Homo sapiens: one gene and its partners. The protein of the gene in region 2 interacts with the protein of the main gene of each other region in a pairwise test. Each region holds a gene or a part of one and is shown on either strand. Other genes may lie near its edges.

Evidence for each region.
Region 1: the proteins of GTF2B (region 2) and NVL interact in binary tests that used the Homo sapiens proteins (3 or more experiments, as listed by UniProt).
Region 3: the proteins of GTF2B (region 2) and SYNCRIP interact in binary tests that used the Homo sapiens proteins (3 or more experiments, as listed by UniProt).
Region 4: the proteins of GTF2B (region 2) and DCAF8 interact in binary tests that used the Homo sapiens proteins (3 or more experiments, as listed by UniProt).
Region 5: the proteins of GTF2B (region 2) and C14orf93 interact in binary tests that used the Homo sapiens proteins (3 or more experiments, as listed by UniProt).
Region 6: the proteins of GTF2B (region 2) and IK interact in binary tests that used the Homo sapiens proteins (3 or more experiments, as listed by UniProt).
Region 7: the proteins of GTF2B (region 2) and SEM1 interact in binary tests that used the Homo sapiens proteins (3 or more experiments, as listed by UniProt).

The regions. Positions count from the first base shown.
Region 1 is NC_000001.11:224,299,173-224,302,672, forward strand, and holds part of NVL (nuclear valosin-containing protein-like), read right to left. Parts: intron 2,600-3,500; coding exon of another isoform or gene 2,519-2,599; intron 1,492-2,518; coding exon 1,390-1,491; intron 1-1,389. UniProt on the Homo sapiens protein: Participates in the assembly of the telomerase holoenzyme and effecting of telomerase activity via its interaction with TERT. Involved in both early and late stages of the pre-rRNA processing pathways.
Region 2 is NC_000001.11:88,860,568-88,864,067, reverse strand, and holds part of GTF2B (transcription initiation factor IIB), read left to right. Parts: coding exon 1-87; intron 88-3,500. UniProt on the Homo sapiens protein: General transcription factor that plays a role in transcription initiation by RNA polymerase II (Pol II). Involved in the pre-initiation complex (PIC) formation and Pol II recruitment at promoter DNA.
Region 3 is NC_000006.12:85,636,387-85,639,886, reverse strand, and holds part of SYNCRIP (heterogeneous nuclear ribonucleoprotein Q), read left to right. Parts: intron 1-2,530; coding exon 2,531-2,644; intron 2,645-2,743; coding exon 2,744-2,920; intron 2,921-3,500. UniProt on the Homo sapiens protein: Heterogenous nuclear ribonucleoprotein (hnRNP) implicated in mRNA processing mechanisms. Component of the CRD-mediated complex that promotes MYC mRNA stability.
Region 4 is NC_000001.11:160,242,050-160,245,549, forward strand, and holds part of DCAF8 (DDB1- and CUL4-associated factor 8), read right to left. Parts: intron 1,986-3,500; 5' UTR 1,960-1,985; coding exon 1,911-1,959; intron 1-1,910. UniProt on the Homo sapiens protein: May function as a substrate receptor for CUL4-DDB1 E3 ubiquitin-protein ligase complex.
Region 5 is NC_000014.9:23,007,344-23,011,406, forward strand, and holds the start of C14orf93 (uncharacterized protein C14orf93 isoform a precursor), read right to left. Parts: upstream 2,801-4,063; 5' UTR 2,758-2,800; exon of another isoform or gene 1-2,757.
Region 6 is NC_000005.10:140,654,329-140,657,828, reverse strand, and holds part of IK (protein Red), read right to left. Parts: intron 3,314-3,500; coding exon 3,243-3,313; intron 3,149-3,242; coding exon 3,102-3,148; intron 2,001-3,101; coding exon 1,837-2,000; intron 276-1,836; coding exon 167-275; intron 1-166. UniProt on the Homo sapiens protein: Involved in pre-mRNA splicing as a component of the spliceosome. Auxiliary spliceosomal protein that regulates selection of alternative splice sites in a small set of target pre-mRNA species. Required for normal mitotic cell cycle progression.
Region 7 is NC_000007.14:96,690,555-96,692,846, forward strand, and holds part of SEM1 (26S proteasome complex subunit SEM1), read right to left. Parts: intron 1-2,292. UniProt on the Homo sapiens protein: Component of the 26S proteasome, a multiprotein complex involved in the ATP-dependent degradation of ubiquitinated proteins.

The DNA of each region.
Region 1 (3,500 bases), about 140 Mb from region 2:
CATCCTTATGACAATGTTTGCAAAAGACGCCTATGACTGCTAGATATATTACCCAGTTACAAAGGAGTAAAATTACAGAGGCCAAAAGCACCAGAAAACAAGCACATCAGTACTTGTCAGTGACCTGGAAAGTTGAATGGGGGAAAAAAAAGAATAAATGATGGTCATCAGAATGTGGCCTAAAGAAAGCATAGTTTTCAACCAAGTATCACTTGATTGGATTTCACCTTTTTGTTTCCTGATCCACATGCTTTACTGGACTCATTCTCATTAGCGAAGAGGGGACCAGGAAAAGCGGGGTGCTAGGCCACATATTTACTGAGCATCTACTGTGAGGTACTGTACTGGCTCAGTACTGGTTTAGTGAGAGGTTTAAACACAGAACTAACAACCTAAAGATGCCATTTGCCTCTTATCCTTATTCATCGTGTTTACCATACGCACAAAATTTACTACTTGTCTCTGGCTATGCGTGCCAATTTAACAATGGAATCCACCGCGTTTTGGAAAACAGGTAGCACCTGAGAAAGTTCAGCTTTGCTCTGCACTCTGCCCTTTCCACCTTTTTTCTCTTTATCCTCCTAGTGTTGCCCACAGCTTTTTCAACGTCAGCCCGCACCATAACTAAGTAGATGGCCTACCCATTCTTGTTATTTAAAATGTTTTTTTTTTCTCAATTACTGCTTAAATATAATTTCTCTTCTAATTTCACACAGGCTTCTAACAGTTGTATTGGATATTCATCAGCTACTATATATTGTCATTGCTAATAATGACATAAACTTTTCACCATTTTTTAGTTTTAAACACAGTGATATTTGTTCAAGTGTGAATAATCTTACAGCTAATATTTACAGGGCTTGTGCTGTGTGCAAGGCACCATATCGAAGGTTTTATAAGAATTCTCTCATTTAATACTCTCAATAGCCACGTGAGATTTGGGTATTATTATTGCCCTAGTTTACTAGTAAGGAATGACAGAATTTATTCTGGTATTTTTATGGTTGCTTTTATAATAGCCTAAATAACAATTTTTACATTGCTTACAAGTTTTTTTTGGCCAAACTTAAGTTGAGGAAAGTAAAAGTGAGTGGAAAATATCATAAGGATAATATATTTTCAACATATGACTACAGGGTATGACGGCCCAGAATTTCTCACCAATTACATTTATGTTTGATTTCAAATGAAAAGGGTTATTTATCCAACAGCTGGTATCACTAAATCTACTTTAAATATTTAGCCATCATGCATAGCAAATTACCATGTTTATATTAATAAAAGAATGGCCAGTGAGTGGGTTAACAAATACTAGCATCAGAAAAAGCAGGATCTTTAATATAAGCTGGTAGCGTCTGACCACCTGGCATTAGTCATTAACTGACTCACCACAGCTTGCTCAAATAGTTCTCTCAGCTTCTGCTCAGACTCTCCGGATACTCCAGACACAATCTCTGGAGCAGCCACTTTCAAAATTGGCAGGTCAAGTTCCTATGCAGACACATAAAAGAATAACCAAATATTCAAATTTTAATTTCCCTACTTTTTCTTATCCAGTCCCCTCAAATTTTTTAAATAGCTAGTTTCCTGAGGAACTTCATCTTTTTATGTTGGCCCAGTGAAAAACACTATTTGAAAATCAATGGTTTTGGCCGGGCATGGTGGCTCAGGCCTATAATCCCACTACTTTGGGAGGCTGAGGTGGGCGGATCACCTGAGGTCAGGAGTTCGAGACCACCCTGACCAACATGGAGAAACCCCATTTTTACTAAAAATACAAAAATTAGCCATGCATGGTGGTGCATGCCTATAATCCCAGCTACTTGGGAAGGCTGAGGCAGAAGAATTGCTTGAACCTGGGAGGCGGAGGTTGTAGTGAGCCGAGATCGCGCCATTGCACTCCAGCCTGGGCAACAAGAGCAAAACTCCATCTCAAAAAAAAAAAAAATCAACGGTTTCATGCAAACACATTTAAGTGGATACCTTCAACTTGTTTTTATTTTATACATGTCACTATAAAATTCTATTATCTTTTCTGAATAAAGGGTCTTGACTTTCAAGAGGTATGTTATCCCCACTTAGGGCTGAGCCAAAGCAATTCTTCGTTTTTTTTGGAGAGACTGTGTCTCACTATGTTGCCCAGGCTGGTCCCAAACTCCTGGCCTCAAGCCATCCTCCCAATTCAGCCTCCCAAAGTGCTGGGGATACAGGAGTGACCATTCCTGGCCTATCAAAACAATTCTTACCCATCTGCTAAGGAGAAAATAGCAAGGGTTGTGACACAGATGTTTCCCACACATTCTGCTAGTATTTCTCCAAATCCTAACCCAGAGAGTAGCCAGTTACTAGTCAGAGGAGGGAGACTCTTTAAGAAGAGGCCAGGTGTGGACGCCCATGCCTGTAATCCCAGCACTTTGAGAGGAGTTTGAGACCAGCCTGGGCAACACAGTGAGACCCCACCTCTAAAAAAATAATAAATTAGCCAGGCATGCTGATGCATGCCTGCAGTCCCAGTTACCTGTGAGGCTGAGGCAGGAGGATCATTTGAGCCTGAGAAGTCAAAGCTGCAGTGAGCTGTGATCATGCCACTGCACTCAGCCTGGGCAACAGAGAGAAAATCTGTTTCAAAAAAAAAAAAAAAAAAAAAAAGAGAGAAGAGAGACTACTGTTCTCCCATTCTTGTGCTTATCTTGAAATTTCACTTCCTCAACCATACCTTCCTTGAACCCAACTCTAATTTGGGAATCCTAACATACCACATACCATTTTGCACTTCTTCTTGTCTTCCATTTATTATAGTCATTATTATGTACAGCATTTATTTATATGAATGACTGTTTAATGTCTCTCTCATATTAGAACTACGATTGTGGTACTTAACACTATATTCCAAAGTCTGGCATGCAGTAGTCAGTCATGTAATGGAATTATTAAACAAAAATGAAGCAAACCAATCAAGTCCCCCTTTACAAATGATTTTCTTTCATAGAACATTATTGTATTAGCGCTTGGTATAACATGCTATTTTTCTTTTTTCTTTTTTTTTTGAGATAGAGTCTGGCTCTTGTTGCCCAAGCTGGAGTGCAATGGCATGATCTTGGCTCACCGCGACCTCCGCCTCCAGGTTCAAGTGATTCTCCTGCCTTAGCCCCCAAGTAGCTGGGATTGCAGGCATGCGCCACCACACCCGGCTAATTTTGTATTTTTAGTAGAGATGGGGGTTTCTCCATGTTGGTCAGGCTGGTCTTGAACTCCCGACCTCAGGTGATCCACATGCCTCGGCCTCCCAAAGTGCTGGGATTACAGGCATGAGCCACTGCGCCCGGCGAGCATGCTATTTTTCTAATCGAAGTTACTCGGATATTTTACATTACTGTCCCCTACAGTTTCTGAAAAATCTGAGAGGGTTAAAATAAGATTGCTAACTTTTAATTTCTCAAAGTAAGTGTCTATTATTACCATTTTAGAAAGAATTATTTTAAAACTAAAAAGTATAAGAA
Region 2 (3,500 bases):
GACAAAGCAACAAAAGATCCATCTCGAGTTGGAGATTCTCAGAATCCTCTTCTGAGTGATGGAGATTTGTCTACCATGATTGGCAAGGTAATAAGTCCATTTGGCAGGAAATACCAATTGCAGAGTGACCATAGACCTGAGAGTTTGGGAACTTTGCAAAAGTATCAGTCACTGCACCAGTGGGGAATCTTGACCTGTCTAATAAGATTTGCCAGTAATATCATTGTGAATGATGGCTAACTTGTGTGTGTATTCCATCTTAAAGTGGGGAAGACCATTAAATCAAAATTATAAAGCCTTTATATCAGGCCTTTTTTCATAAATGACATTTTCTGTACACACAAAAAATGAGTGTAGTGTGGCCTTCATGAGTTAATATTGATATGTTCTTTGAATATCAAGAATGTCTTCTCAGCTGGGCATCATGGCTCACACCTGTGATCCCAGCACTTTGGGAGGCCAAGGCAGGCGGATCACAAGGTCAGGAGTTCGGGACCAGCCTGGCAAATATGGTGAAACCCCATCTCTACTACAAAAAAAAAGGAAAATAGAAAAATTAGCCAGGCTTGGTGGCGGGCACCTGTAGTCCCAGCTTACTCGCGAGGCTGAGGCAGAAGAATTGCTTGAACCCAGGAGGCGGAGGTTGCAGTGAGCCAAGATCGCGCCACTGAACTCCAGCCTGGGCAACAGAGTGAGACTCTGTCTCAAAAAAAAAGAAAAGAATGTCTTCTCTTTTCTCTCTATACCACTTAAGATAAATGGGAGGTTAGTGTAACCTCTTTTCTGATATTAGTGAATTTATGACTTACCTAACTTTACATTCCTTATCTGTAAAATGAGAATAAGAGTACTTATAGAGTTTTTGAGGGTTTCATGAGAATGTATGTAAAGTATTTATATAACATGTATTGTATACTGTGTGCTCAGTCAGTGGTAGCTGCTATCATTGTGTAAGGCAATAGTATAGTTTTCTTGGCAGCCTGATTCTCACTCTGTTATCCGAGTTGGAAGTAATAGTGACGGTATTACTGAGGGCTAATCAAGGAAGTATACACCATTTTATAACTTCATGTATACTATTGCATAGTCTCTTTTTTTTTTTTTTCCAAAAAAGTCTTGTTTAAAATCTGTCTGGCTGGGCACAGTGGCTCATGCCTGTAATCCCAGCACTTTGGGAGGCCGAGGTGGGTGGAGATCAGGAGTTCAAGACCAGCCTGGCCAAGATGGCGAAACCCCGTCTCTACTAAAAATACAAAAAGTAGCTGGGCATGATATGATGGTGGGCACCTGTAATCCCAGCTACTCAGGAGCCTGAGGCAAATAATTGCTTGAACCCGGGAGGCGGAGGTTGCAGTGAGCTGAGATCGCGCGACTGCACTCCAGCCTGGGCAACAGAGTGACACTCTTGTCCAGGCAGGTCTTGAACTCCTGGTCTTCAGCAGTCCTCCCGCCTCAGGCACCCAAAGTGCTGGGATTACAGGCATGAGTTTACCATGCCGAACCCTGTATAGTCTGTTTTGTTTTTGAGACGTTCTAACACTGTCGCTAAGGTGGGAGTGCAGCAGTAGCTTGATCTCGTCTCACTGCAACCTCCACCTCCCAGGCTGAAGCGATCCTTCCACTTCAGCCTCCCAAGTAACTGGGACCACAGGTGTGGGCCACGACACATGGCTAATTTTTGTATTTTTTGTAGAGACAAAGTTTCGCCATGTTGCCCAGGCTTGTCCCAATTCTTGGGCTCAAGTGATCCACCCACCTCGGCCTCCCAAGGTGCTGGAATTACAGGTGTGATCCACCATCCCTGGGCAAGATAGAAATATTTTTAAGCTGCTAGATTTATCACATAATAAATTTCTATGTGTACTTGGGCATATTTCTCAACTTTCTATCTTTTCCTGTCCTGGTCCAGTTAGTCAAATGCCATACAACACTGTTTTAGTATTTAGTAGCACTAGTTTTCCCTCATTGCTCTTTTTCAGCATTTTCTTCGCTAGTCTTTTCCATTTAAAGGTTAAGTTTGTTTCATTTTTTAAAAAAATTTAGGTTTGTTCACTTGCATTTTTTGTACCTTTGGAGTTGATTAAATGATTTTCCTCTTCAGCTCTATTAATATGATGTTTTATGTTATTAGATTCTTTAATATATTTGTGGAACAGTCTCCACTTGGTTGATATTACTGCCTTTTAATACCCTGTTGGATTCTGTTTCCTGTGGGGTTTTTTGGTTTTCTTCTTTTGAGACAGGGTCTCTTTCTGTCACCCAGTCTAGAGTGAAGTGATGTAATCATAGCTAACTGCAGCCTCAAACTCCCAGGCTTAGGTAACCCTCCTGCCTCAGCCTCCTGAGTAGCTGAGACCACAGGCGTGTGCCATCACACTCGGCCTGTTTTGTTTTGTTTTGTTTGAGACAGAGTTTCGCGCTTGTCACCCAGGCTGGAGTGCAATGGCACGATCTCTGCTCACTGCAACCTCCGCCTCCCAGGTTCAAGCGATTCTCCCGCCTCAGCCTCCCAAGCAGCTGGGATTGCAGGCATGTGCCACCACGCCTGGCTAATTTTGTACTTTTAGTAGAGGTAGGGTTTCTCCGTGATCATCAGGCTGGTCTCACACTCCCGACCTCAGGTGATCCGCCTGCCTCAGCCTCCTAAAGTGCCAGGATTACAGGCATGGGCCACTGCGCCTGGCCTGTTTTTTAATATTTAATATTCTCACTGGGGTTTTGGTCAGATTCATTTGCAAATTGACACAGGGAAAATTGGCTTCTTCATAATAAATCTTGTATTCAAAAATTCATAATGCCTTTCCATTTCCTTAGGTATCTTATGTGTCCTTCAGGAGATGTTTGAAAGTTTTCTTCATGAACGTCTCACATGTTTCTCAAGTTTATTTCAAGATTTTTGTTGTTGTTTTAATTGAAAAATTTGCTTTCCTTGTCTTTTAAGTTGGTTGATTGTACTTATGAAGGGTATTGATTTCTATTTATCTTGACCTTGCTGCTTTAATGAATTATTTATAGCAGCTGTTTTTTAGTGATTTTCTTGCATATTCCAGGTGTATAAAGGTACTATCTGCAAATAGTTTATCACATCCTTTCCAATTTTGTACTTCCGGTTTTTCTCTTGCTTAATACTATTGGCTAGTTTTTCCAATCAGTGTTACAAAATGGTAGCAGTAGGAGGTACCTTTGTCTTGTGATTTTGGTGATAATGCTGGTAATGTTTCTCCATTAATCATAGTACTTTCTTTGGGCAGAGGAGAGTGGTTTTCTAATGTAAAGAAGTACTCATTTGTAGCGTCCTATGAGTTTTTATCAAAGACGAATTTTGATTTTGTTCATTTGCCTTTTTAGCGTCTTTGGAGATGATCATGATTTTTCTTCTTACATCTATTAATATAATGTTTTACATTATTTGATTCTCTAATATCTTGTGGAACAATCTCTAGTTGGTCATGATATACTACCTTTTAATATGCTGTTGGATTCTGTTTTCTAGTATTTAA
Region 3 (3,500 bases), on a different chromosome or scaffold from region 2:
AACTGGCTTTTTTTTTTAGGAGTCTCAAACCCCAATGAATTTAGAATGTTAACCCTGCTGCCCTCCACTTCCATCAGTATGGATTATTAGACTATTTCTCAAAGCAGCTTTGACAATAAGATTGTTTAGTGTGGGTATGTAGATGAGAAACTGAGGCTAGGAGGAGGAGGCTTTTTTTTTGGTTTAAAATCATGGTGAATGGCTTCAAATTCAGCTTGGTTTTGATATTTATATTGGTGAGTTTTCTAATTTATAGACAATGTGGTGATTGTATTACTTTTTAACCTGGTGTGCTTTGTAGTGTGCCAGTGCTCTTGAGCCAAGCGTATGGTTTAAGAAAATCAGTTAAGGGTATAGGCCTTGAGCATTGTTGTAGTGGTGTGGAAACAGGGAAAGCCTAGAATATGGAAAAGGTTGGTATATGGAGTTAGCTGTTTAAGACAACCATGAATTGGAGGCTTTCACAGATCTAGCTGTGAGTGAATTGAGTTTGATCTGTAAATCTAGTTTTTCCATAAAAGTGGAGTATAGTTGTCTCCATTGTAATTCAGTTGTAATCAAGTTTGCATTGGTGAGCTAGAACTAAAGTTTTTAAACTTTTAGTTTGTGACTTTTAGCTTTCAGTTTTTTTTGCAAGGGGGTGGCTTAATTTTTTGTTTGTTTGTTTGTTTGTTTTTGGGAGACAGAGTCTTACTCTGTCACCCAGGCTGGAGTGCAGTGGCGTGATCTTGGCTCACTGCAACCTCCACCTCGCGGGTTCGAGCAATTCTCCTGCCTCAGCCTCCCGAGTAGCTGGGACTACCGGTGGGTGCCACCAGGCCCAGCTGATTTTTGTATTTTTAGCAGAGGTGAGGTTTCACCATGTTGACCGGGATGGTCTCAATCTCTTGACCTCGTGACCCACCCACCTTGGCCTCCCAAAGTCCTGAGATTACAGGTGTGAGCCACCATGCCTGGCTGCTTACAGTTTCAATGAGAGCTAAGTTGTGGTAAAAAGGCATAGAGACATTTTTAGAGGAAGTTTGACAGAGGGAATAAGTTTTTCCTTTTTGTTTTTATGGATTGACAAAAAGTGTTATTTGGGTCTTAACTATTAAGGTTAAAAAATCCGTTTATAGCATAGGGATTACATGTGAGAAAATGGAAAGATGAGCTATTACTCATTTAGTTTATGTTATAGATGTGAGCAAGTTTATGAATGTTTTTATTAATTACAGTATTTTTCATAAACAGTTAGTGTCCTTTGAGTAGAAAATGTTAAAAATCTGTCCAGTAATTTTCAGAGACTGAGGTGACCCTAGATTATGCATTTTGATAAATTTTGTCAGATAGCTAGGATTAGTCTGTTTTTATTTCAGAATGTCCTAGCTAATAAAATTGGTTTTGTTTAGAAAACCACTTTTGTGCTTTGTGGTTGAGACAGTGGAGAAGGGGAATAATTCTTGACTTTTTCCTTCAGATAATGGAGGAGTGTACCTTTTTTTTTTTTTTTTTTTTTTTTTTTTTGAGATGGGGTCTTGCTCTGTCATCCAGGCTGGAGTGCAGTGGCGCGATCTCCGCTCACTGCAACCTCCGCCCCTCCAGGTTTAAGCGTTTAAGCAGTTCTCTGCCTCAGCCTCCTGAGTAGCTGGCATTACAGGCGCGTGCCACCACGCCTGGCTAATTTTTTGTATTTTTAGTAGAGACAGGGTTTCACCATCTTGGCCAGGCTGGTCTTGAGCTCCTGATGTCCTGATCCACCCGCCTTGGCCTCCCAAAGTGCTGGGATTACAGGTGTGAGCCACTGCACCCAGCCTATACTTCTTTCTATACTTTGCCTAGAATAAGGAATAAACACCTAATGCTCTGAGTAAATATGAGTTGTGTAAATTTTAACAGTTACTTTTTGGGAGTTAAAATGTAGAGGTTATGTAACGTTGCAGTTTCATAAAGTTTTTAAAAGTCGTTTTGGCTGTTACTTTTTTCTGAAGGACCCATGCTATCCCATGAAATATGGCACGTAAATGTCAAATAATAATAGGAGATTTTTTTTCCCTGTAGCTCCCAAGTTTCTAGACTTGGTATGGGAAGTGTAATTTCTTCTGAGGTTGGCACAATGCCCAGAATGGCAGTATGTACCTAGGAGTGGGGTTTATAGGGAATTTATTGGGTGAGAGATCCAGATTTGAAAGATGCTCAACCAAATTAGGTACAATCATTTTTTAAGATGGTATTAACATAGTAATACATCCTGTCTTGAAAGTTGCTGATGGATTGGTCTTAACTTTTTGTTGTCCATTAAGCACACTATTCAGTAATTAAGTGGAGACTAGAAAGTAATTTGAACAGGACCCTGGACTTCTGATAATAATTTAGGAGTATAACAAGTACACATTTAAGGGGAAATTTTAAAACAGACATCACAAACCTGTTTTTATAAGGGAACATGCCAAGATAATTGGAAAGATTTGAGCAAGATGGATGTTAACTGCTAAATATATGGGTGTGGTCTAGTGAATTAAATGTATTAATGACGTTTGAACTTTTCAAGGCACTCTTGGAAAGAACAGGCTACACACTTGATGTGACCACTGGACAGAGGAAGTATGGAGGACCACCTCCAGATTCCGTTTATTCAGGTCAGCAGCCTTCTGTTGGCACTGAGGTAAAGCAACTAAAAACTTGTACCTTTTGTAGTAAAAGCACAGGTATCTGGTTTCCTAAAGCAATTCTCCATGGTTTTTACTTAATATTTAATTTACAGATATTTGTGGGAAAGATCCCAAGAGATCTATTTGAGGATGAACTTGTTCCATTATTTGAGAAAGCTGGACCTATATGGGATCTTCGTCTAATGATGGATCCACTCACTGGTCTCAATAGAGGTTATGCGTTTGTCACTTTTTGTACAAAAGAAGCAGCTCAGGAGGCTGTTAAACTGGTAAGTTGTCCTTTTTTCCCCTTCAGTTTTCACGTTCACTGTCTTTAATATCAAGTTTTTTTCTTAGTGTGCCTAAGAGTTTACCAAACATTTTTTGAAGTACTGATTTAGGCAGGTTTTTTTTTTCCCACATCACTGTGCAAGCATTGTAGTGTTATTCTTTGCATGTATAGTTGATAGGATTCAGCATCTAAAAGGCGGCATGGTAGAATTCCTAGCAATTGGTTCTTATAAACATCTGGCTTAGTGACGTTTTTGTGTGTTTGTTTAAATTTATAGGAATGTGAAAAGATTAAGAAAAGTAACTGTGGTAAGAGCTCTCATACTTCCTGGCCATACCTGAGCCATCTCTTTTTCTTAAATAATTCACAAAAGACATTGTGATACATTTCTAGTTGATGAAACAAAAGATTTTATGGTGAGTGGCAATGTTTGATTTAAAAATACCAGATGTTAGGTAAGGACCTGGTAATCTTTCCAACTTTTTTAAAAAGGAAATTTTTCTTTTTTCTTTTCTTTTTTTTTTGAGACCAAGTTTCTCTCTCTTGCCCAGGCTGAAGTGGCATGATTTCGGCTCACT
Region 4 (3,500 bases), about 71 Mb from region 2:
CCGGCTAACATGGTGAAACCCCCATTTCTACTAGAAATACAAAAAATTAGCCGGGCGTGGTGGCATGTGCCTGTAATCCCAGCTACTTGGGAGGCTGAGGCAGAAGAATCGCTTGAACCTGGGAGGTGGAGGCTGCAGTGAGCCGAGATTGTGCCACCGTACTCCAGCTTGGTAACAAGAGCAAAACTCTGTCTCAAAAAAAAAAAAAAAAGCCTCAACTAAGAGCACAGTATAAAACAACTGGGCTAGGGGCTGGAAGAAAAAGTTATGAAGTACAGAAATTTGAACCCAAGGACCACATTTGCTGAGCCTGTTATATATGCTACGAAAGTTTAGCAGTTACAGTTTTTTGAAATGCAGCTGGGCTTGAGCTTGGGAGTGGTGAGCAGGGACTGAAACACCAACCTAACAGGTCTGTAGAAAAGAAAAAATAAAACACCAAAACATCTAGTGTTTATTGTTAAAATTATGAGTAACAAATATAGACAATTTTGGAGGCCTTACCACATTAACATAAGGGCCAGAGGGTATCACAAGCTCATCAAGAAGTCCCCAACAGTAAATCACCAAGATCTAGAGTAGGGGTTTGCAAATTTTTTCTGTAAAGGGCCAGATAGTAAAAACCTTAGGCTTTGCAGACCATACGGAGCTCCACCACAACTACTCAACTCCAGTATGTAGAACAAAAGCAACTCATAGACACTACATAAACGAACAGGCATGACTGTATTCCAATAAAACTTTACAAAAACAAGTGGCAGGCTGGATTTGGCCTGCAATTTATAGTTTGCCAATCCTTGACCTAGCTAATGGTCAAGCTCCAAATCAATAGTATACTTTAACTCCTCTAGAACCCTGTGCCTTTCAACTAAACCCAGTGAAAAATATGAACCACTTTCCTTTACAAAAGATGAATGAATGGCAGTGATAAGAACATATGGAGCAATAAAAAAGCATGTTGAAAATCTCACTTATCCTTCCTCCAATCACATCAACTAGAATTTAGCCTGTTATCCTGACCTTCAAGGTGCTAAGGAATGCTGGACTCTGTGCTGCCCAACTATATCCATTTAAAGGCGGCTTCTCTAATTTAAAAGTTGGCTCAGAGGTGAAGAGCTGGTTAAATAACCCAGGTGGTAGTTATACTCTATTAGAATTTTTATATTCTGCCTTCAAATCTGCCCTAAAGCCAGTGATTTGACACTTGGCAGCACTGGTCCTGAAAAGAAGGAGGAGGGAAAGGAAGGAAGGAAGGAAATAAATGGAAAGAAGGGAGGGGAAGTAAGGAAAGGAAATAAGGAGGGGAAAGATGTCCCACTCCTAGTTGGGTTGTAACTTCATCCCTTATGTAATCACCTTTTTTTTTTTTTTTTTTAAAAAGACGGGGTCTCGCTATGTTGCCCAGGCTGGTCTCAAGCTCCTGGGCTCAAGCGATCTGCCTGTCTCAGCCTCCCAAAGTGCTGAGATTATAGGCATGAGCCACCATGCCCAGCCATGTAATCTCTCTATCAAACTACTACTTACTGTGGAAAGGGACCTCTCAATATAACTGGGAAGCTCATCTTCCCTAAAATTCCCTTGTTCCTACTAGCCATTAGATTTTATTTTTCTCCTTTACTAACAGCATTTCCTAGGTTCTGCCCATCCTTATAGCTTTATAGAACTCCAAACCACTTGACCTCTTAGAAGTACAGCTCTGTTATTGATATTTTGAAAATGATCAGATAAAATCAGAAGAAGCAAAAGCATAATATAGTCCAAGGTGTTTCCTGTGTAGTTTCCTAAACTCAGAACAACACAGGAAAGTTTCCCTCTCTCCACTAAAATCCAGGCCTCCACTCTATCTTGCAGGGAGGAGGACAACCTCAGTTGATAGTAAAAATAGCTTCACCTTCATTTTGGCCCCTTACCATTAGCTAAGTCTGTTCTGCCATCTGTGCTGCTCCCTTTGCTGGACATCTTGAATGATGTTTGCTGTAGCCAGCCTGGGTTTGGGAGAGGAAGAAACCAAAACAATTAGGAAACCACCTGGGAAAGAAGACAATAGGGACAAGGAGATTTAACAATGTACAGGTTTTATCATTTTTATAAAAATGATTTGTGTATGCATGCTTAACAGGTCTTCTCAGCTTGTGAAATTTTTTCTTCCTTATGTTTTCTTCCCTATGTTTAAAATCCATATAATGATATATTTTTGGGGAGGTCAAGTGCCATCTCTTTACTTCACTCACTGAGTAACTGGCAGTGATTTTTCAGATGCGAAAGTGGGAACTAAAATAAAACCTGGAACAGGAGGCACATATCAAATGACAGGTACTGCAAGCCAAGAGTCTCAACTCAATACATAAAGCTAACTTCAGCATTGCCCCCTAGGCAAGAATCTTCCAATGTAAATAAGTGACATATGTATCCTCAAACTCTGTACAACACTTGTTTTCACAACATAAAGAGGTGGGTCAGATTCTGAGTATCATTTTACACACAAATCAACAGAAATCAACCTCTTGGGGGAAGAGATTGAGCTTTCTGTTCACTCAGATGACTAACTTCAAACCTATTATTATTATTCTTTCTTTTTTTTTTTTTGAGACAGAGTCTCATTCTGTCGCCCAGGCTGGAATGCAGTGGCGCTATCTAGGCTCACTGCAAGCTCTGCCTCCCGGGTTCACACCATTCTCCTGCCTCAGCCTCCCAAGTAGCTGGGACTACAGGCGCCTGCCACCATGCCCACCTTTCTGTATTTTTAGTAGAGATGGGGTTTCACTGTGTTAGCCAGGATGGTCTCGATCTCCCGAGTGATCCGCCCGCCTCGGCCTCCCAAAGTGCTGGGATTACAGGCATGAGCCACCACGCCCAGCCCAACTAACTTCAAACTTATTAAAGGCACAGATACTAAGGATTATAGAGCTGAAACTAGAAATCAGGAGCACCCTATCCCTAGGAAAGAAGCTTAAGTTGTTTTGTTTCCCTTAGGACTAACAGTCAGAGTCTCTAAGCACAAAGACAAAGGTGGGGAAGAAAAAGGCAACATTTCCATTAAACCATCTCATCCCATTTCATATAATGGCAAACACTGTTTCACCTAACAGCACCAGCTTTCACCAGACTCATCTTTCCTTAACAAGGAATCAGGGTATCTAACTCACTTCCTTTTATGCCACTATAAAACATTCATATTTTTTTCAGAGCCTCACTGCCACCTCCAGTAAATTCCAAAGAGCAAAGAATAATATTATTCAGACCAGAATTTTATTAAGCCCTTTCAGTGACTTGGACAAAAGGCACTAGTAAAAGACAAAGTATAATTATGACCCCAGTCCTTGTACCCAGGCACACTGGCCTCTAATCTTTCAACAGCCCTTTCATTCCCATGACAATTATTCCAGAAGCAGCCTCATCCTTATCTTTTCCTCCGCTACCCTCTATAGAAATCTAAGCTGCTTCATTAAAAGTATCCTCTGTCAAAAGACAGTAGCCCAAAGATTGTTCATAATAGGCCA
Region 5 (4,063 bases), on a different chromosome or scaffold from region 2:
CATCTTTAGCTTGTTTTTGTTTACTTGCTTTTGTTCTCTGCTGCTCACAAACCTGTGTGTACACGATTATAAGCACAGTGGCCACAAATCGGCGTCACACGTTGGGTGGTGGCCGACTTTTAGTTACTGCTGGCCTCGGTTACATTTCTTTCACATGTCACCTGCAAATTAGCAGCTCCTCACAGTTCAAAGAAGTTTCCAATACTAGGGGCCCCGAGGATTCCCAGGCAAAATCAACAGAGTTTAGTTTTGCTTTGCTTTGGAAGGCCAAGCCAACGATATATATGTGCGAGGAATTCTCTCCTTTCTTAGGAAGAAAAAGCAAGAACAGTGGATATGACCCTACGTTCCTGGATGTAGAAATCAAATAGCCTAGGAAATCAGGGATACGGGCTCTGCACTGTTCAGGGAGAGCTCTCCCTATTTTTTGAGACGCTAAAAAGTAAGGTAAAAAGTATATGTGATGACCTGTAGTGATGTGGAAAAGAGCTAAAAAGGGTAAAACTCCATTAAAAATTCCCGTAACTGGCCGGGCGCGGTGGCTCACGCCTGTAATCCCAGCACTTTGAGAGGCAGAGGCGGGCGGATCACCTAAAGTCAGGAGTTGGAGACCAGCCTGACCAACATGGTGAAACCCCGTCTCTACTAAAAATACAAAAATCAGCCCGGCATGGTGGCACATGCCTGTAATCCCAGCTACTCGGGAGGCCGAGACAGGAGAATCGCTTGAACCCAGGAGGCGAAGGTTGCAGTGAGCCAAGATCGCACCATTGCCACTGCAGCCTGGGCAACAAGAGCGAAACTCCGTTTCAAAAAAAAAAAAAAAAAAAAAAAAAACTCCCATCACTGTTGTGATCACAAAGATCACTAAAATGTGACTAGATTTCAAAGAAATGCAGGTCTGAAATTGTGGAATAATCCACAGTCGAGCCAGTATTTATTAAGCACTGGTCTGACTTGAATTGTTAGAGAATAAAAATACACTCAGCACAAGTAAGAAACCCAGAAAGCCCAAACAGGGCCACTTTTGTTATAAATTTGTACAAGTAACTTTATTGCAGTCAGTATTTAGGAGTCAAATACTGCTTGAAATAGAGTAGGATGCTAGCTGTGTAATAGAAATGCATTATTATACAGAAGTTTTGTTGTAATGAAATTTAAATTCTACAGTAGATTTTTTTTTTTGTCTCCTGGTTGTCACTGCATTTGTGACATTCCAGTTTCTCCCTCAGCACCTCATATACCTCCTATGCTTTCACTCCAATCTGCGAATACAAATTTGGATACAGATATTTTCCATACAACTTCTAATGAGGAGATAGTGATTCTGTAACAGAATGAAGTGAAAATAGGGCTCCTATAACAGGAGGTTCTGCTCTGCGAGCCTGTTTTTCTCTAATTCATATACTTTTTTCTGTGACTCTTAGAAATGAGAAGCTTTCCATTCTAAAAATGCAACATGATAACCAAAAGGCATTTCTTATCCCTTCTATTATTTGCCTTTGCATCCTCTTGGCTCCCCATCACCATCACCATGAACAGTTTTTGAGAATTACACTTGACTGGATTTTTTTCCTGATACTTTGCCAGCTGTGGAGCTTTTCGAATATTCCAACCAATAAACGACCATTTTGTCAAAAAGCCAAGAAAGAACTTCCCTTCTGAACACACCAACCAAACCACACATAAAGGCCAAAATATACACAGCTGTACACTTAAGAACGTGAGACAATAAAAAGCAAAACCACTTAGGCAAAACAGTCACTGAAGGCTTTGAACCACAGATTCAATAAATTGCCTACTCTCATTTGCCACATGGACTATATACTCCTTGGCAATTATTTAATTATTCATTATTCTGATCCTTTAGGAGCAGAAAAATATAGTAAATGCACATAGAAAGTGCCTAAGTATGCTAAGCATAGGATTTCTTCTAAGCTCTGCTTTGCACACAAAATATTTTGATCACATTTGGGAAGACAACGGAAAAAAATTCACATCCTAGGGGATACTTTGCACACATAAAACCAGATATATTTATCACTTTTGAAAATAAAATCTGATATGGCACATATACACACATATTGTACATATACACAAATAACCCCAAGTTATAACTTTACAAATTTGTTTCAAGAAACACACACACACACACACAAATGTTCTAATGAAAATGTGTGTGAAAGACACACTGTAATTAAGGTCTTTCCCCCTTCCCTAGGGAAATGAATGTCTCCATTATAATATCCCAATATTAACTTATTGGCCTTGGACAAGTGCCACATCCCAGCCACTTGGTTTTGGTTCTGGGGGGGTGGGTGTGTAAAAAGCACGCAAACGGCTTTATGAGGGAGCCTCAAATCTCTCTGCTTCCTTCGATGTTGCCTGTGGCAGAAATTTACATTATCCCTTCAGCCCGCTTAAAAAATTCTGTACTTCCCAAGCGGCTAAATTTTTAAAGTCCCTCAACCACAAAAATCTACCAGTTCTTAAAATGTGATTTAAAAAAAAGAAAAAAAAACTATAAATTTGGCCGGAAACGGTTGTACACGGCCATCCTGCTTCTCAACTTCTTGGTATATTTAAAACCTTGACCAGGAAAAAGAAAGAGGAAGAGAGACAGAAAAAGAAATGGGGGAAAGAGCAAATTCCCCTTAGCAACAGTTTCCTCACCCCAACACTGCTACAGATCTCTATTTTTAAAAAATTTGAAAACACACACAAGATTAAGGAGGAAAAAAAATGGAAAAAGGATACCCGAAGGTCGTATGGCTCTTTGTATTCGTGTGTGTGCAAAAAGGAGGACTCGCGGAGCCCGAGCCGGCAAGCCCCGCCCCTCCCCGGACGCCCTCCCGGATTGGCCGTCCGCGGCCGCGGGGCGCCCCGCCCGCAAGCACACGCGCCGCGCCCGAGGCGCCAACCCCGGAGTTGGGGGCGGGGGGGGCCCTGAGGGCCGCCGGACCCCCGACCCCCAACCTCGCCTGGACCTTGGCAGACCCCTTTCCCACCTCTCTCCCTTTCACTTTCTCACCGTCCTGTCACCCTTTCCCATCTTTTTTTCTCAGTGAAACAAGGCCCAGTCACCAGCATAACAATCCAGTGAGCGACCTCCGGACACTTTGTTAAATTGAGTGAACTAGTCAGTAACATTCTAGACTGCAATTAAACATCAGGGACTTGGTGCGTGGGCCCTACTCCGGTTTCCAGGTGAAATGTCTCTGGGTCACGTGTGTTGCTTAACACCCCCACGTTTAAATGAACATTCACGTATGGAACATCTTTCTGAAGTCTTACACTTCAGCCCGAGCTCCCAGTTTATCTACCTGGCTCAGACCACATTCTCAAAACTAAAGTGGCTCCTCTTTATTTCCAGGAAGACAGCTGGTATACCTGGATTTTAAGCCACCCATAATCTGGTCCCACCCACCTATTTGTTATTTATTTATTTATTTAGACAGAGTCTCGCTCTGTCACCCAGGCTGGAGTGCAGTGGTATGATCTTCGCTCACTGTAAACTCCGCCCCTCCGCCCCCACCCCCACCCCCACCCCCACCCCGCCCAAGCGATTCTCCTGCCTCAGCCTCCCAAGAAGCTGGGACTACAGGCGTGCGCCACTGCACCCAGCTAATTTTTTTTGTTTTTGGTAGAGACAGGGTTTCGCCATGTTGGCCAGGCTGGTCCTGAACTCCTGACTTGAGGTGATGTGCCCACCCTGCCTTTTTTTTTTTTTTTTCAGTGATGTGATCTCGGCTCACTGCAACCCCCACCTCCGAGGCTCAAGCGATTCTCCTGCCTCAGCCTCCCGAGTAGCTGGGATTACGGATATATGCCACCACGCCCGGCTATTTTTTTTTTTTAAGTAGTGACGGGGTTTCACCATGTTGGCCAGGCTGGTTTTGAGCTCTTGACCTCAAGTTATCCTCCCGCCTTGGCCTCCCAAAGTGCTGGGATTACAGGCGTGAGCCACCGCGCCTGGGCACATATTTGTTCTTAGTTCCCTCTACGCTCGTCTTATCAATCTTGTATTATTCCTTTACTCAAGTGGCTTTTTTTTTTTTTTTTG
Region 6 (3,500 bases), on a different chromosome or scaffold from region 2:
CAGAATCTGGCTGTAACTGTCTCCTTGCCAATGCTCCAGTACTCCCATTTTTCTCTGCTTCCCAGGAGCCTCTCAATATTCTGGAGACAGAAAGCTCCAGGAGACCTTGGTTTTATCCCCAAACGTCCTCTGTGGGTAAGGCTTCTCTCTCTAACCCTCCAGGTACCTTTATCCTTCTTCTTAAGCTTCTTGTTACGGGTTCCCTGCCTCAGGTATGAAAGGATCTGGGTCAGCTTGCTAATGACAATGTCATTTGTGGTCAGTGTGGTCTGGGCCTGAAAATACCAAGAAACAAGAATGTTAAACCACTCAGCAGAAATCTCTTCATTTATTCATTCATTCACTTAACAAACTAAAGACTGAATTACAATACAGTAGGTGAAGGGAGGGAAACGAAGTGCTGTGAAAGGATATTCCAGAGATAAAACAGCCTGCACAAAAGCCCTGCATCAAAATGAATCAAGACCATTCAAGAAAGTCAGGAGTCTAGAACATTCTAGAAAGGCCAGATGTTGCAGAGGCTCAAAGTCATGGTAAAGATTTTGCTCTTTATCCTAAGAATGAGATACTACTAAAAGCTTCTAAACTGTAGTGAGACAAAAATTTACATTTTATTTATTTATTTGGAGACAGAGTCTCATTCTGTCGCCCAGGCTAGAATGCAGTGGCACGATCTTGGCTCACTGCAACCTCCACCTTCTGGGTTCAAGCAATTCTCATGCCTCAGCCTTCCGAGTAACTGGGATTACGGGCACATGCCGCCACGCCTGGCTAATTTTTAGTAGAGATCAGGTTTTACAATGTTGGCCCACCTGGTATTGAACTCCTAACCTCAAGTGATCCTCACACCTCAGCCTCCCAAAGTGCTGGGATTACAGGTGTGAGCCACTGCACCCAGCCAAACTGTATATTTTAGAAGGGTAGGGGAGGTAGGGGTGGTTAATAGGTACCAAAAAAATAGAAAGAATGAATAAGGCCTACTACATGATAGCACAACAGGGTGACTATAGGCAGTAATAATTTATACATTCTAAAACAACTAAAAGAGTATAAATGGATTGTTTGTAACACAAAAGATAAATGTTTAACGGGATGGATACCCCATTTTCCATGATGTGATTATTATGCATTATATGCCTGTATCAAAACATCTCATGTACCTCATAAATATATATACCTACTATATATCCACAAAAATTTTTAAAAAAATTCTCTTTAAAGGATGAATTATATGGCATGTGAATAACACCTCAATAACAAGATATAATAACAAATCAGAGTGGAAGTGCGGAAACCAGAGTGGAAGTGCGGAAACCAATTAGAAGCCTTTTTAATAGCTCCAGAGGACTGGCGCAGTGGCTCATGCCTGTAATCCCAGTACTTTGGGAGGCCAAGGCGGATGGATCACTTGAGGTCAGGAATAGCCTAGCCAACGTGGTAAAACCCAATCTCTACTAAAAATAAAAAAATTAACCAGGTGTGGTGATGAATGCCTGTAGTCCCAGCTACTTGGAAGGCTGCGGCAGGAGAATCGTTTGAACCTGGGAGGCGGAGTTTGCAGTGAGCCAAGATAGCACCACTGCACTCCATCCTGGGTGACAGAGTGAGACTTGGTCTCTAAAAAAATAGTAAGTTAATAGTTCCAGCAAATGATTATAGCTTAGACTGGAATGTTATTGGTGAAAAAGTGGAAAAGTGAATGGATTCAGTTGAGATTTAGGAGGTAAAAGTGAACAGCACTTGGTGACATGGTGGACAAGGGACACGGGGCAGAGGCCAGGCTGATTCCCAGGCTTGAGGCTCACATGATAGGCTCTCAGGATTCCATTCACTCACCTCCATGGTGGGGCAATCAGCCTTGCTGCGGATAAGAGTGGTGGGGATATCTGTGTCAGCATACTCATCATCCAGGTCTACCACATAGGCCATGCGGCCCGGCAGGAACAACTCATTCCGCTCATATGCTTTGCTCTTAAAAAGCATTCGGTAAACATTGCGGCCTACAATAAGGAGAAGAGCAGCAAGTAGCCAGGATCTACAAGAACAGCTGTCACTTATGTGCTTACTCTGTGCTAGCCACCATGCCAAGTGCTATGCAAGCTTTGCGTCATTTAATCTTTGCAACAGCCCTATGAAGTGGATATTATTATCCTTTTTACTGATAAGAATACTATGGCTGAGATTTAAGTAATTTACCTAAAGTCATGTATCTACTAAGTAATGGAGCAAAGAATGGAACCAGGCCATGTAACTCCAAAGCCTGGGCTCCTGTCCACTCTTCTACATTGCCTCTTCAAGGGCACTATGCACCTGTATTGTATTAAGTCCTGTGAGGAAGAAGGATGAAGTTTAAGGTAATATTGATGATGATGGAAAAAACAGCTCTACTACCTGCTCAATATGATAGGCATGTTATAGATTTCATTTTTCTTCATCCCTACAATAAAGTCATGTGGTAAATAGTAACCCAATTTTTACAGATGAACAAACAGCAAAGTCAGTTGCCTAAAATCATACACTTAGTGCTGTTTCATCATCAAGGTTTAAACTCAGGTCTCTCTGACTCCAAGTTTTGAACTTTTAATCACTAACCATGTTACTTCTTTTAACTCATAAGCCCCAAACTGAAAAATCTTTCAATCTACCTGAGGAGACATAAATGACATATGAAATAATTAAATCTATGTCTGAGTCTTATTAGAGTATTTTATGGGAGTTAGTTGTTTTGGGGGCAAGAAAGAATCCCAGCTCTTTGGGAGGTCAAGGCAGGAGGATCACTTGAGCCCAGGAGTTTGAGACCGGCCTGGGCAATACACAGAGAACCCCATCTCTGCAAAAAATAAAAAAAAAAATTAGCTAGGTATGGTGGCACATGCCTGTGGTGCCAGCTACACAAGAGGCTGAGTCCAGGAGGTCAAGGCTGCACTGAGCCATGATCACACCACTGCACTCCAGCCTGGGCGATTAAGTGAGACACTGTCTCAAAAAGAAAGAAAGAAGAAAGGAGGTTGGGGGAAAGGAGAAGCATATCCTTCCCAGAGCATTAAATTCCGTACAATTCATCCAGAATGCATAGTCACTAGTATAGAAACTGTACTCACCCAGACGTGTTTTAAATTCAATTTTATTTTCAGGATCCTCATCTTTCCTGAAAAGACAAAAAAGTTTTATTTTTGCTAAATGTGCTCTAACTTTAGGTCCCACCTTTCTAAATTCTCAACCTTTCCATAATATTTACTTACTTGGTTTCTTTCTGGGGCTTTTCCATCAGTTCCTCTTCCTCTTTCTCTTTGCTGGCAATCTCAGCTCGTACCTAACAGGAAAGCAAGCAGGGTTAGGACACTCATTTTATATATTTATTGAACATCCACTACACCACACTGTACCAGGAACTAAGAATATAATATTAAACATGACAGATATTGTTCTTACTCTAATGGAGCTTATAGCAGATGAGACAGACAAATTAAACAATTTCAACAAAGTACAATAACTGCTGT
Region 7 (2,292 bases), on a different chromosome or scaffold from region 2:
CAAAAATAGAAAACCTCAGCACAACTGTTAATATCATACGACATACACAGTGAACATACACTATCTGAAACGAAAACAGCAGCAGTCTTTGTGCAACAAAACAAGAAAAAAGACTAATGGCCACTAGTAGGTTTGAAAAGTCCTCTTACTATCCAAGAAACTACTCAGCTTTATGACAATGGCTATATCTGATTTGGTAAATCAGGAACTATACTGGATTTTTTTGTTGTTGTTGAGATGGAGTCTCGCTCTGTTGCCCAGGCTGGAGTGCAGTGGTGCCATCTCGGCTCACTGCAAGCTCCACCTCCCAGGTTTATGCCATTGTCCTGCCTCAGCCTCCCTAGTAGCTGGGACTACAGGCGCCCGCCACCAGGCCCAGCTAATTTTTTTGTATTTTTAGTAGAGACGGGGTTTCAACATGTTAGCCAGGATGGTCTCGATCTCCTGACCTCGTGATCCACCGGCCTCGGCCTCCCAAAGTGCTGGGGTTACAGGTGTGAGCCACTGCGCCTGGCCTATACTGGCTTCTTAGAGTTTTTATGTAAGACGTGAAATAGGGTTGAGAAAAATCATACTACTACCTATTTCTCTTAATACATAAACAAATGATATCAGAAGCTGCAAAATCAGAATGACTTTGAGTTACCTGGAAGAACAAAGTGGCCTTATTCTTTCTACTTCTGTTAAAGGTAATTACACGGAAAGAGAAAGACGAATGTGGAAAGTGGGGGGCCTGCGACATGGACAGTTTTTATTTAACACACACACACCACAGTCTAAGCACTCTACACATGTTAAATCACTTAAACGTTATAATAACTCTAGCAGTAAAGCACTAATTATCATCTGAGTTTTATGTGTGACAAAAGTAGGTCACAGAAAGGCTAAGTGAGTTGCCCAAGGTTCATATGGCTAAATAGGAGGCAGATCTGGGGTTGGAACCCCAGCAATCTGATTCACACTAGAGTCTGAGATGCCTCTCCACTGTTAAATAGGATTAGGACCAAATAACATCAGACAACAGTAAACTCCATTCTTTACCATGACTTATGATATTATGTTAAGGGTTTCCATGTACTTTACAGAAAAGACTAGGAAGAATAACTTTGTGTGAGTCTTTTAATCAAGACAAATTTTTTAAAGCAAGGATTGTGCGAGGCTGTTTTATTCAATATGGTAGTCATATGTGGCTATTTTAATTGAATAAAACAAAAAATTCAGTCCCTTAGCTGTGCTAGCCACATTTCATGTGCTTAGTAGCCAAATGTAACTGATTGCTTCTATACAGCAGCTTCTCAAACATTTCCATCACTACAGCAAGTTCTATTTGACACCACTGGCAATGTGGCAACAATCTTAGTGAAGAAAGAACTCATGACTCAAATGGGGAAATAAAAAGAAAAATCTTATTCACTAATGGAGGCATCAAGATTTATATACCTCAGGCAAAAAACAACAACAGTGAAAAAACAACAAAAATAGATTTATATACCTATAGAAATCCACAAACCTAAAGGCAGAAACACAAGAGTACATAATGGCACTGTGGGGGTGTATTATAAAAACAGTAAGCCACAAATATATAATGTTCTATTTCTAAAGCAATAAAAAGGCAACATGTAATGATGTGAAATCTAATTATCAATACATTTACTACTGAAAGTTTCTTGGTAAAAATTATAGTATTCAACAATGTATCAATCAGTTTTAAGAGAAAAGTGCTAATGAAAGACATAAAAGAAACAAAACTTCAAAGAAATTTGACTATTTTGAATGTCAAAGGAAGAAAACTTGTTTAGCCTCAATTTCAAAATGTCAAAAACATATCAGGAAGAAAACTCTGACACGTGATTAAAAACACAGAGTAGAGATCAACAGCATTTGGAAGACCTGAAAATAAATAGTCTAATAGCATAATGATGCCAAGGCGGAACAAAAGGGAATGTATATTTTTCAAAAGCTAGTAGGGTGTTCTCTAATGTGGCTCATTTTTTGAAGGACATAAAACAAAGACAGATATAAAAAGAAAGGGCATGAGCTTGTACACATAGAATTAATCTGATCCTCGAAATAAACTGAAATCTGTAAAAAGAACAGAAGGGGCTTCTAAGAGCCATATACTGATCATGAAGAATGAGAAAGAGCAGGTACAATGCTTGGAACAGATGATGTAACATTAACAGATTTTAGAGAAAAAGCAGGATTATTGTTCAATAGCTATCATTTTTATCTTGTCCATAAAACTATAAAAGGAAAAACAACATAATTAAGACAAAATTGAAAACTAAGACA